Regions from separate parts of the Homo sapiens genome. Here region 1 is linked to region 2. Evidence: fine-mapped expression QTL. Tissue or cell type: whole blood. Region 2 holds a variant in brackets; the other region holds the start of a gene. All regions are shown on one strand. Distances are between the middles of the regions.

The links. PIP is the estimated chance that this variant, and not a neighbour inherited with it, causes the effect. A credible set is the group of variants that fine-mapping cannot tell apart.
Region 1: TRIM58 starts here. The variant in region 2 is the best candidate, but not a certain one, in a credible set for the expression of TRIM58 in whole blood (TOPMed, PIP 0.50).

What each region holds. Positions count from the first base shown.
Region 1 is chr1:247,854,619-247,860,190 of GRCh38, reverse strand. It overlaps TRIM58 (tripartite motif containing 58), which reads right to left and starts at 3,004. Exons shown (of 6, transcript NM_015431.4): 1 at 2,525-3,004. The coding sequence starts at 2,944. RefSeq lists a cis regulatory region at 4,527-5,091.
Region 2 is chr1:248,245,439-248,251,010 of GRCh38, reverse strand. No RefSeq gene overlaps it. Among named protein-coding and RNA genes, the nearest start is that of OR2M4, 17 kb to the right of the region's middle. The variant G/A (reference allele first, on the strand shown) is at 3,300.

The DNA.
Region 1 (5,572 bases), 390 kb after region 2:
GGCCTAGCTCCTTAAATGTATTTTAATACCAGATACAATCAAATATTTATCTAAAAGTATGCTCACTGCATTGTTATATACGATAGCATAACTAAACTAAAACATTAAAGATAGGGGAGAAAAAAATTATATTAACTGGATAGAATTAAAATAAGATGTTACAGAATGTTTAATGACTAGAAATACAATGATAATGTCCAATGAATAAAAATATTTTACAAAACAACATGAATTTTGAAAAAAAATGTGCTGGTAATGAATATATTAAAACTGGGCTGATGTAAATGAGAATGATATTAGATAAAATGTCATCTATTGGTGTTTGGATGAAGAGTGATGCTATTATATCTCTATATTTCATATATTTCTCTATATAACTATATTTATACATTTCTCTATATTTATATATTTCTCTATATAACTGTATTCTGTATTTCTCTATATAACTTCAACTTCTTGAAGTTATTGGTTACTTTATGATAAAGCATGGGTTTATTATTGTAGTATTAGTAGTATTATTAGGTCAGAAGGAACTTGGTAGGTTATCATATTTTATATGAAAAAACACAGTATGTTGTAAACCTTGCAATGAGTAAAAATACAATGAGAACTAAATCTTCCTTCAATGATAGGGCGCTCACTAGAGGTAAATATGTGTATTTTAAATACTCACAAAGATACATACATAAACAGGATTTTAATTAAAAAATTATATTCCCAAAGTTACTCAATAAATCCTACATACACATCAATTGTTTTTAAAAGGAGAATATTATAATTGTTATATATAAAATAACAGTAGAATTCATGATACCATTTGACTCAGTGGGGAAAGTGGCATGTGTTTTGGTGTTTACAAAGAACGGAGCACTTTGACACTTGTAGATAAAGAAAAGCTCCCTCAGGCCAAAGAAACTGTCAGCAAAAGCAAGGAGATGTAGCACAGTTAGGAAAACAGTGATTCGGCTAAATTTGCTGGGTTTCCTGGCTGGTTAAGACAAGAGAGCTATGGAAACATAACTTAGGGCCCTAGAAAGCTTTCACTGAGAGGCTCAGGAGTTTAGATAATATTTATTTGGTATTTAACCGAAGAACTACTGAAAATATGGAGAACACCTTTAGAAATATTACACTAGAGGCTGGGCTGCCTGTAACACCAGCACTTTGGGAGGCCACGGCGGATGGATCACAAGGTCAGGAGTTCAAGACCAGCCTGGCCAACACAGTGAAACCCCGTCTCTACTAAAAATACAAAAATTAGCCGGGTGTGGTGACGCATACCTGTAATCCCAGCTACCCGGGAGGCTGAGGCAGGAGAATTGCTTGCACCAGGACCCGGGAGACGGAGGTTGCAATGAGCCGAGATTGCGCCACTGCCCTCCAGCCTGAGCTACAGAACTAGACTCCGTCTCAAAAAAAAAAAAAAAAAAAAAAAAAAGTTACTACCAATCCTCTTTCTGGACTTTTTTTAAAAAGGCAAGAACATTCCAGAAAAGTTTAGCTAGAAATTACCTAGTACTAGTACCTACATCTCGCAAATGACAACGAAAATCAAGAAGAAATACCAAGAGAGATATTGGTAGAGAAGGAAGGGGAAAATATCCTAAACCTTAATTTAAAACAAACAAAATAAATAAATAAAAATTTTAAGAAAGTATTTGCAATGCACTACAGCGCGACTGACAGTCCTTTGGTTAAATCTGTCAGTAAAGACGACTTAGACCTCCTCTGTGCTGGCAGTTGTTCTACATGCTGGGATTCAAGTGTGTTCAGAAAACATCCAAGAACTTTTGAAGGGCACCAGTAGGAAGAAATCGACACACAATTTCACAGATGCCACTCTGGGGACCAAATACTCCCATTTTGTTTTTCTTCTTTCTCTTTGAAGCTTCCCGGGCTACACCCCAAATGAAGCACCTCTTCATTGAGGATGTTCGAATCCTAAGTCCCCAAATCCCTGCTGATGGAGAGCCACCCGCTCCTACTTCAGGAGGCACGTGCACCTGAGCTTTGGAGGGGTCGGAACCCGTACCCAGCTCGACACTCTTCTTAACAACGCCCAAACCCGAGGGTTGCTTTGCTGACAACACTCATTTAATGTAAACACTGTGCAAAAGCAAAGCATTGCACAAATGAGAATTATTATGGCAAGTTTACGATATAGACGTACAATTGTTACCAAGAATGAACTGGACCACACAGCCCTCCCGACCAGAGCCCAGCTGAGGGACCAGACTATCCGCATCGGGAGAAACCAGCCCAGCGCGAGTTCGACGACAGGAGAGTGCTTGGGGGAGGGGCGGACGGTGTAAAATAATGGGTGTGTGTCGCAAAGGGGGTTACCACAGCCAAGGCAAAGAGACCCACACTGAGTGAGCCGCGTGGGCGGGGGGGACGGCGCGCGGTGGGGGGAGCGGCCGTGGGAGCCGCTCAGGAGACGGGTGGCCTCGGCGGCTCCGCTCCGGACTGTCGCCCGCTTCCCGGTCACCGCAGCGCCCGCAGCCCCCGCCGGGGGGCGCCTCACCTGGTAGCTGCCGGCGGCCTCCTGCAGCGGCGCCGTGCGGTGCGTCCTGTGCTCGGGGCCGGCGTCGCACACCCAGCACAGCGCCGCCTCGTCCTCCTCGCAGAAGCGGCTCAGGTCCTCGCCGTGCCGCGCGCATCGCCGCGCCCCGGGCCCCGCGCCCAACCCCAGCCGCCGCACGCTCTCCACCAGGCCCGCCAGCTGCCGGTTGGGGCGAAAGCCCGAGGGCCGGAAGGGGCCCCGGCACTGCGGACAGGCGTAGACGCCGCCCTGCGCGCCGTCCGACTTCTCGCAGAACTCGGAGATGCACCTGAGGCAGAAGCTGTGGCCGCAGTCCACGCTGACCGGCTCCTGCAGGAAATCCAGGCACACCGGGCACCGCGCATCCTCGCGCAGCCGCTCCCCGGGCGGCGCCCAGGCCATGACCCGCCTCCCGGAGGGCTGCGCTCCCGGCCGCCCGCACCGTCTCCCCTCGCGGTCTGCACAGGGGGAGGAGCCCACGCCCCAGGAAAGCAGGCGCCGACGGGTGGTGTCCGCTGGCTTCAGTTCAAGAGCTCAGACGAGCCACACCCGGTGAAAAGCCACCACTCAGGCGCTCCCTATGTCGGGGATAAAATTAACGTTGTGGTTCCCCGCCCCCGTCACACACACACCCAGGAAACTGGGCATTTCTAACTGGAATCCCTCCTCATATGCTATTTTCACTGGCAGTAGATCTGGAGAATTGCTAAATTCCCTCCTTCCTTCCATCTTTGTTTGTTTGTTTTTGTTTTTGTTTTTTTGAGAGGGAGTCTCGCTCTGTCGCCCAGGCTGGAGTGCGGTGGCGCGATCTCGGCTCACTGCAGCCTCCGCCTCCCGGGTTCAAGCGATTCTCCTGCCTCAGCCTCGCAAGCAGCAGGGATTACAGGCGCCCGCCACCATGCCCGGCTAATTTTTGTATTTTTAGTAGAGACGGGGTTTCACCATTTTGGTCAGCCTGGTCTTGAACTCGTGACCTCAGGTGATCTGCCCGCCTCGACCTCCCAGAGTGCTGGGATTACAGGCGCGAGCCACCGCGCCCAGCCTCCATCATCATTATATAGATTTAGTGCAGATTTCTGGGGTACCAGTGCAGTTTTGTTACATGGAGACACTGCATAAAGTCTAGGCTTTAGCGCAGGCATCGCTGTGATAGCGTAAATTGTTCTCATTAGGTGATCTCTCATCCCTCGCCCGCCTTCCACCCTCCGAGCCCCTTCCATTGTTACTGAGCTACTCCATGGTCCTCTCATGCCATAATCGTTTCTTAAAAGGCTTTCCCCCTTTATATGGCATAATCAATTTTTAAATGTTTTTTTCAAACTTCATTTTTTTCTCTTGCACTAATTACCTCTTGATAAAGAAATGAGACACCGCCTGACACGGGAAGATGCCTGCATAGGTGTGTGTAACTATAGGTTTACAGCCCAGCCAAAAATAATTCTAAATATTTAAATAAATATCTGGCCTAGTTCAATGAGGATCCTACAAGGAATACACACATGTTGTAGGATTGTTGCAAAGCCAGTCTTGGAGATGACAAAGCTATAGAGATACTCATCAGAGGAATAATTCAAGCTTAGCCTCTCAGTGGTGTACCTGTCAGATGGGGGAGGCTGAGACAGGAGCAAAATGATTTGACAGAGTATGTTACTTCATCCAGTGGAAGGCTGAATCAGGATAAAGTACATTAAAGTCTCTAATGTCGTCCAGAAAGTCGACAAGTCTGAGGCAGTGTCTGCATCTGTGCAAAATAACTTTAGTATGGTCGAGTTTGAAGTGATGGTGGGGTGTACCTGTGGCAAATCAATCTGTCCCTGAGCACACATTGTGTCTGTTTGTAGCCAGGAGTCTCAGACATTGCACCGGGTACTGAAAATACACATGTTAAGGAAAAGAGGTGGGACCCCATTTCTCCAGGAGCCTTAAGATCAACTAGAAGAGGTGGATATGAAATCATGCAAACATATAATTACAAACCAATAACTGCAAGGAAGGTCGCTCACCAGTCCTGCAGGAATATAACAGAGGACTCTGAATGAGGCTGCAGGGTCGGGGGCAGACACCTGAGGTCTCTGAGCAAACCTCTGATAGGTGAACACAAGCTGGCCAGCGGGAAGGGGGGCTCCGCAAGGCCGTGCCCCCAGAAGCCATGAAAGGTACAAGGTAAACTTCAGCAGGTGGGAGCAAGACATACCCAGATGACAGTGAGAAGCCAGGCAGGCTGGCAAGCTGGGCCAGAATATGGTGGCAGCAGATAAGGCTGCAGCAAGAGGCGGGGCCAGATGACTCAGGTCCTTGGGGATCCTCTGGGGTTTGTGGGTCTTCATTATAAGGACAAACTCTTGGGCTGGATCTCTGGCGACAGGCAGAGCAGAGGATCTTGAGGCCTAAAGGTTAAGTGCGCAATTAAAGCGAATAGATTCTTGGAGAACACACATGGATCTGTATTAGCAAAACACGAAAGATGTGGCATTAGAGAAAAAAGCTAAAGAGCAGAAGGCTTAGCAAAGAAAAACAGACTCTGGCTCCGGACTAAGGGCTGTGGCACTTGCTGAGAAGCTTGAGGCAAGCTGTGCCGCGTTTCTGCCCTGCATTTCTTCTGACGTGCAGTGAAGAGGTGTTAGTGTCATTCATATAAGGCCTTTCAGAGTATTAAACGAGCTAATAGATAGTAGACACTTAATATAGGTCCTGGCATGTTGGAAATACACACACACACACACACACACACACACACACACGTATATATATTGAGACAGGGTCTTGCTCTGCTGCCCAGGCTATAGTGTAGTGCCACAACCTGACTCACTGTAGCCTCTACCTTTCAGGCTCAAGTGATCTTCTCACCTCAGCCTCCCAAGTACCTGCGACTACAGGTGCCCGCCACCACGCCCAGCTAATTTTTGTATTTTTTGTAGAGACAGAGTTTCGCCCTGTTGCCCAGGCTGGTCTCAAACTCCTGGGTTCAAACAATCTCCCCACCTTGGCCTCCCAAAGTGCTGGGATTACAAGTGTGAGCCACCTCGCCCG
Region 2 (5,572 bases):
AGAGGTATTAAACCATTTTTTTCTGAGATCCTTTTCATCCCTAATTACTGCTGTAGTATATTACTGATAATATTTTACTTTCAATGATAGGTAGGCATGAGAGTGCTAAGGCATTGTAGATTAGTATAAATCATGAGCATACTGATGCAAAGACTCAGAAGCTCATCTTCACACATTGATTCTCATAGCCACTCACTTAGATGCCTCCCTGAAGGAAATACATACGGTGATCAATGCCAGGAAAAAAGGCCCTTTATTTTTATTTTGTGTTATTTTTTATTGATGCAAATATTTGTATACTTATGGGATACATGTGACATTCTGTTACATGCATAGAATGTATAATGATAATGTCAGGGGATTTGGGATGTCTGTCACCTCGAGTATTTATCATTTCTAGGGTTTGGGAATATTTCAAGTTCTCTCTTCTAGCTATTTTGAAATGTATAATGCATTGTTTTTAAGTATAGTCACTGTACTCTGTTACCGGGCATTAGAACATATTCCTTCTATTTAACTGTATGCTTGTATCCACTAATCAACTTCTCTTCATCTCCTTCTACACACACTCTTCCCAGTCTCTGGTATCTATCATTTTATCTTCTAACTCCATGAGATCATCTTTTTTAGTTCCCATATATGAGTGGGAATATGTGAGATTTGCAAAAGACCCTTTTAAAATCTCATTATTTTTGTCCGTTTTTCTTCACTCCTCAATTTAGTTGCTTATGGAGCTTTTTGAAATACCCTGTGTTCCCTCTATGTACTTTCTGCCTAAATTCACAGGCAAGCTCATGTCTTTATAGATGTGGCCACAGGAAGGCTCACACACTAAGAGGAAGGTAAAGGAAGGCCTCTCCATAAAAAAAAAATAAAATAAAACAAAACAAAGCAAAATTGTTTTGTTTGTTTTGAAACTTGTGTTTCAAAGACTAGTTGGATCACTCAGTTTACCATGTCACAATTCTATTTGTATTCATACTGAAATAGGCATCTAAGTGTTACAATTGCCTGTCATTATGGAAGCAAAGACTCTTTAAATATCCTTTAAGTAGTAGTTAAATTTTGGTTATCTAAAAAGTACATTTGAACCTTTCACCCAACATAAAATCTAAGAACTCAATAGCAATTTACATATAACATGTGGCCTCACCTTACTCCATTTCACTACTTCTACTGCCAAAATTTTGAGCATCCTAAACCCAATGTTCCACATCCTCTCATTCTCATGTTCATTTAGCTTTATGTAGATGTTAAACATCTTTTGTTTTGATTCTTTAATGATTCATAAAATTTTAGAAAAGCTATTGTGCAGCAAGTAATCTTCCTGAGCTTGCTTTATGGTATTATTAAGATTCATTCTATTTTTTTATTGCTCAAATATATTGCTTTCAGCTATTGTAAAATATTCCAATTTGTGAATACAAGAAAAATTATTTATCATATTATTTAGACACAGAAATTTTATATATCTACCATAGAAACAAACCTTTTGAACATGCCTTTGTGTGACTCCTAGTATACTGGAAGAAGTTTCTTGGGTTCTATGGAGAGAAATAGAATGGTTGGACTGTTTGGAATGTAAAAGTCCAATATAAAACATGGTGTTGATTTCTTTTCCAAAGTGCCAATATCGGTTTTCATTCTAGTCGGCAATGCTAAATTGTTTTGCTAATAAACATACTCAACAACATTCAGTATTGTTTGAGTTTTCTATTTTTTCTGCTGGAATGGGGATAAAATACCACTCTTGACAATTATGTCAGAAGTTTACTGGCCACGTGTGTCTGTTTTTCTGTGAAATAACTGCTCATATATTTTTCTTATTTTTCAGTATATATATATATATATATATATATATGAAGTTGAATCAAATAATATTATTAAATATAGGTGTATATTTATTTAGTATACTGTTTCATCTTAGTGCATAACTAGAATTTCCACCTATTTGAGGTATCTATCAATGGACAAAGTTTAAAATTTTTAACTTGGTCAAATTTGTCAATGATTGTATTTATAGTTATTACTTTATATGACTTGCTTAAGAAATTGATGTCTGCTCGGGAACATTTGCCTATAATTTAAAACAAATATTTGTTGTGTTTTCAATATGTGTTTTTAATACAGTTGAGGTTGATTTTTGTACATTGTTCAGTAGGAACTAAATTTAATATATCTCCCTATAAGTAATATTTTCTCAATAATTTTATTAAAATTAAGTAGATTTACATTTGTTCAAAAAGTGGTATTATTTGAGGCCGATTAATTGTAATAAAAATTAGTCACAATAATGTATAATGTCTTACATCCAAATGAAGCTTACTTCTTGTTTTTGTAGCAGTGTTGGAAGTGTGGACATGTACTGCTTGTTGGTGCAGCTTCAGGGACCTAGGAAGACAGAGTCCCTGCCTGGGTTTCCTCGGGACATCTCCATTGAACAGCCACAGTGAAAAATATAATGTGCAAGAAAGCATCTCGGGGAGTGTTTCTCTTTTTCCTCCGTTTCTTCCTCCCTTCCTCCCTCTGTCACTCCCTTTTTTTCTTTTGCTGAAATACCCATATTTCTTTTAAAAATTTTTAATTTTTGAAAAATAGAGCACCACATCAAAGAAAAAAAAATTAAGGAACTACCAAGGATCAAAAAAATCTTGTTTCATATTTATCCACCCAACAAATCTAAATGCATTTAATGTTTGTGGAGTTTTGTTTTGTTTTGAGATGGAGTCCTGCTCTGTTTCCCAGTGCAGTGGTACGATCTCAGCTCACTGCAACCTCTGCCTCCCGGGTTCAAGCGATTCTCCTGCCTCAGCGTCCTGAGTAGCTGATTATAGGTGTGTGCCACCATGTCTGGCTAATTTTTGTATTTTTAGTAGAGATGGGTTTCACCTTGTTGGTCCGGCTGGTCTTGAACTCCTGACATTGTGATCTGCCTGCCTTGGCCTCCCAAAGTGTTGGGATTACAGGCGTGAATCACCGTGCCTGGCCATTTGTTTAGACATCTTATCACTTCTTCATTATACCTAATCTTGAATTCATAGTTTCTTCCTTTGTACTTAACCACAATACCTTATCACACAAATACAATTAACAGTATTTCCACAATGTCATCTAATAGGACATCTGTAAGCACATTTCTTAATAATCTCAATAATCTCATGTCTTACAATTGACTTATTTGGATGAAGACACCCACACACAAAAAAAACGCCGCATGTTGCCAGTTGAGGTTTCTAATTACACATGAATTTCCAGCCGGCACTCTGAGCAGCAACCACATTCCTTCAATCTCCATAGAA[G/A]GTCACTCTGTCTATGTGTACACAGACTAGAAGTGCCAGAGAATAAAAATCGCCAGCAGAGAAGCCCCCGAACAACCCTGGTGAAAATCAAGTTCTGTCTCCTCTCTCACAGGCAAGAATGATTCTCAAGGGTGTGCATTTTATATACTTTCTCAGAAGTGAGCCACAGGATTAGGTTGGATTTGCCCTCTGTAGTAGCTTACTCAATAAAACACGCTTTATTAACTTCCTTTCCTTCTCTGTATTAATTCTTTATAAATATAGACTTTTCCAGATAAAGAAAAGCTGAGGGATTTCATCAACACCAGACCTGTCTTACAAGAAATGCTAGAGAGAGTTCTTCAACATGAGAGAAAAAAAGTATTAATGAGCATCTGAAGGTACAAATCTCTCTGGTAATGGTAAGTACACAGGAAAAGACAGACTATTACAATACTGTAATTGTGGTGTGTAAACTACTCATATCTTAAGTAGAAAGATGAAAAGATGAACCAATCAAAAATGATATCTACAACAACTTTGTAAGACATAGACAGTACAATAAGATATAAACTGAAACAACAAAAAGTTACAAAGTGAAGGTATGAAGTTAAAGTGTAGAGGGTTTTTTTTTAAGTTCCTTTTTGCTTGCTTCTTGTTTGATTGTGAAATCAGGGTTACGTTGGTCATGAATTTTAAATAATGGGAGATAAGATATTACTCCCAAGGCTCACAATAATTTGAAATGTAAAAATACACAACAAGCACAGGCAACTGAAGCAAAAATGGACAAATAAGATCACATCAATTTAAAAAGCTTCTGCATAGCATAGGAAACAATAAAGTGAAGAGAAAACCCACAGAATGAAAGAAAAAATTTTCAAACTACTCATCTGACAAGGGATTAATAACCAGAATATATAAGGAGCTCAAACAACTCTATAGGAAAAAATGTATTAATCCAATTTAAAAATGGGTGAGAGTTGAATAGACATTTCTCAAAAGAAGACATACAAATGGCAAACAGGTATATGAAAAGGTGCTCAACATGTTGATCATAAGAAATGTGTAAATTAAAACTACAGTGAGATATCATCTCACCCCAGGCAAAATGACTTTCATATAAAAGAAAGGCAATACCAAATTATGCCAGAATGTGGAGAAAAGGGAGCCCTCCTACACTGCTAGTGGGAATGTGAATTAGTACAACCACCATAAAGGACAGTTTGGAGGTTCCTCAAAAAACTAAAAACAGAGTTACCACATGATTCAGCAATTCTACTGCTAGGCATACATCCAAAAGAAAGGTAATCAGTATATTGAAGAGATATCTGCACTCCATGTTTATTGGAGCAGTATTCGCAATAACTAAGATTTGCAAGCAAACTGTGTCTATCAACAGATGAATGGATAAAGAAAATGTGGTACATATACACAATGAAGTACTATTCAGCCGTAAAAAATAATGAGATCCTGTCATTTGCAACAACATGGATGGAACTGGAGGTTATTATATTAAATGAAATAAGCCAGACACAGAGAGATAGACTTCAAATGTTCTCCCTTATTGGTGGGAGTTAAAAATTAAAACAACTGGGCTCATGGAGATAGAGAGTAGAAGGATGGTTATCACAGGCTGAGAAGGGTAGTGGGGGTGGGGATTAGGAAGAATAAGTGGGGATGTTTAATGGGTACAAAATATAATTAGAAAGCATGAATGCCTTAGTGTTTGATAGCACAACGGAGTGACTATAGCCAATGATAATTGTGCATTTAAAAATAACTAAAAGTATAACTGGATATTTTGTAACATAAAGGACAAATGCCTGGGATGATGGATACCTCAATTATCTGATATGATTATTATGCATTGCATGCATGTATCAAAATATCTCATGTACCCCATAAATATATACACCTACTATGTACTCACAGAAAGTAAAAATTAAAAATAAAAAGGTCTAAAATATTTAATGTGGATAGCATGACTTTACTCCAGAATTTTACTGATTTCATTTGAATTATCCCATGGAAACATACAATAAATGCCACACAATGTAATTTCCCAATAATAATAGCTCTAATACTATAGATTCTAACACTTGCATGGTCCAAGTTTCAGAGTTGCTTGCACTGCATCCTGGATTGCAGTGAATCCTCTTTCTGTTATTGGAGTTACTCAAAGTCAGTATCTTTTTGCGTAACCCACTATATAGATCTAAATAATAATCCAGGTGTGGTATATGCTGCCGTCAAAACCCAAAAAGGTATACCAAGTATTGTCTATCTGTTAT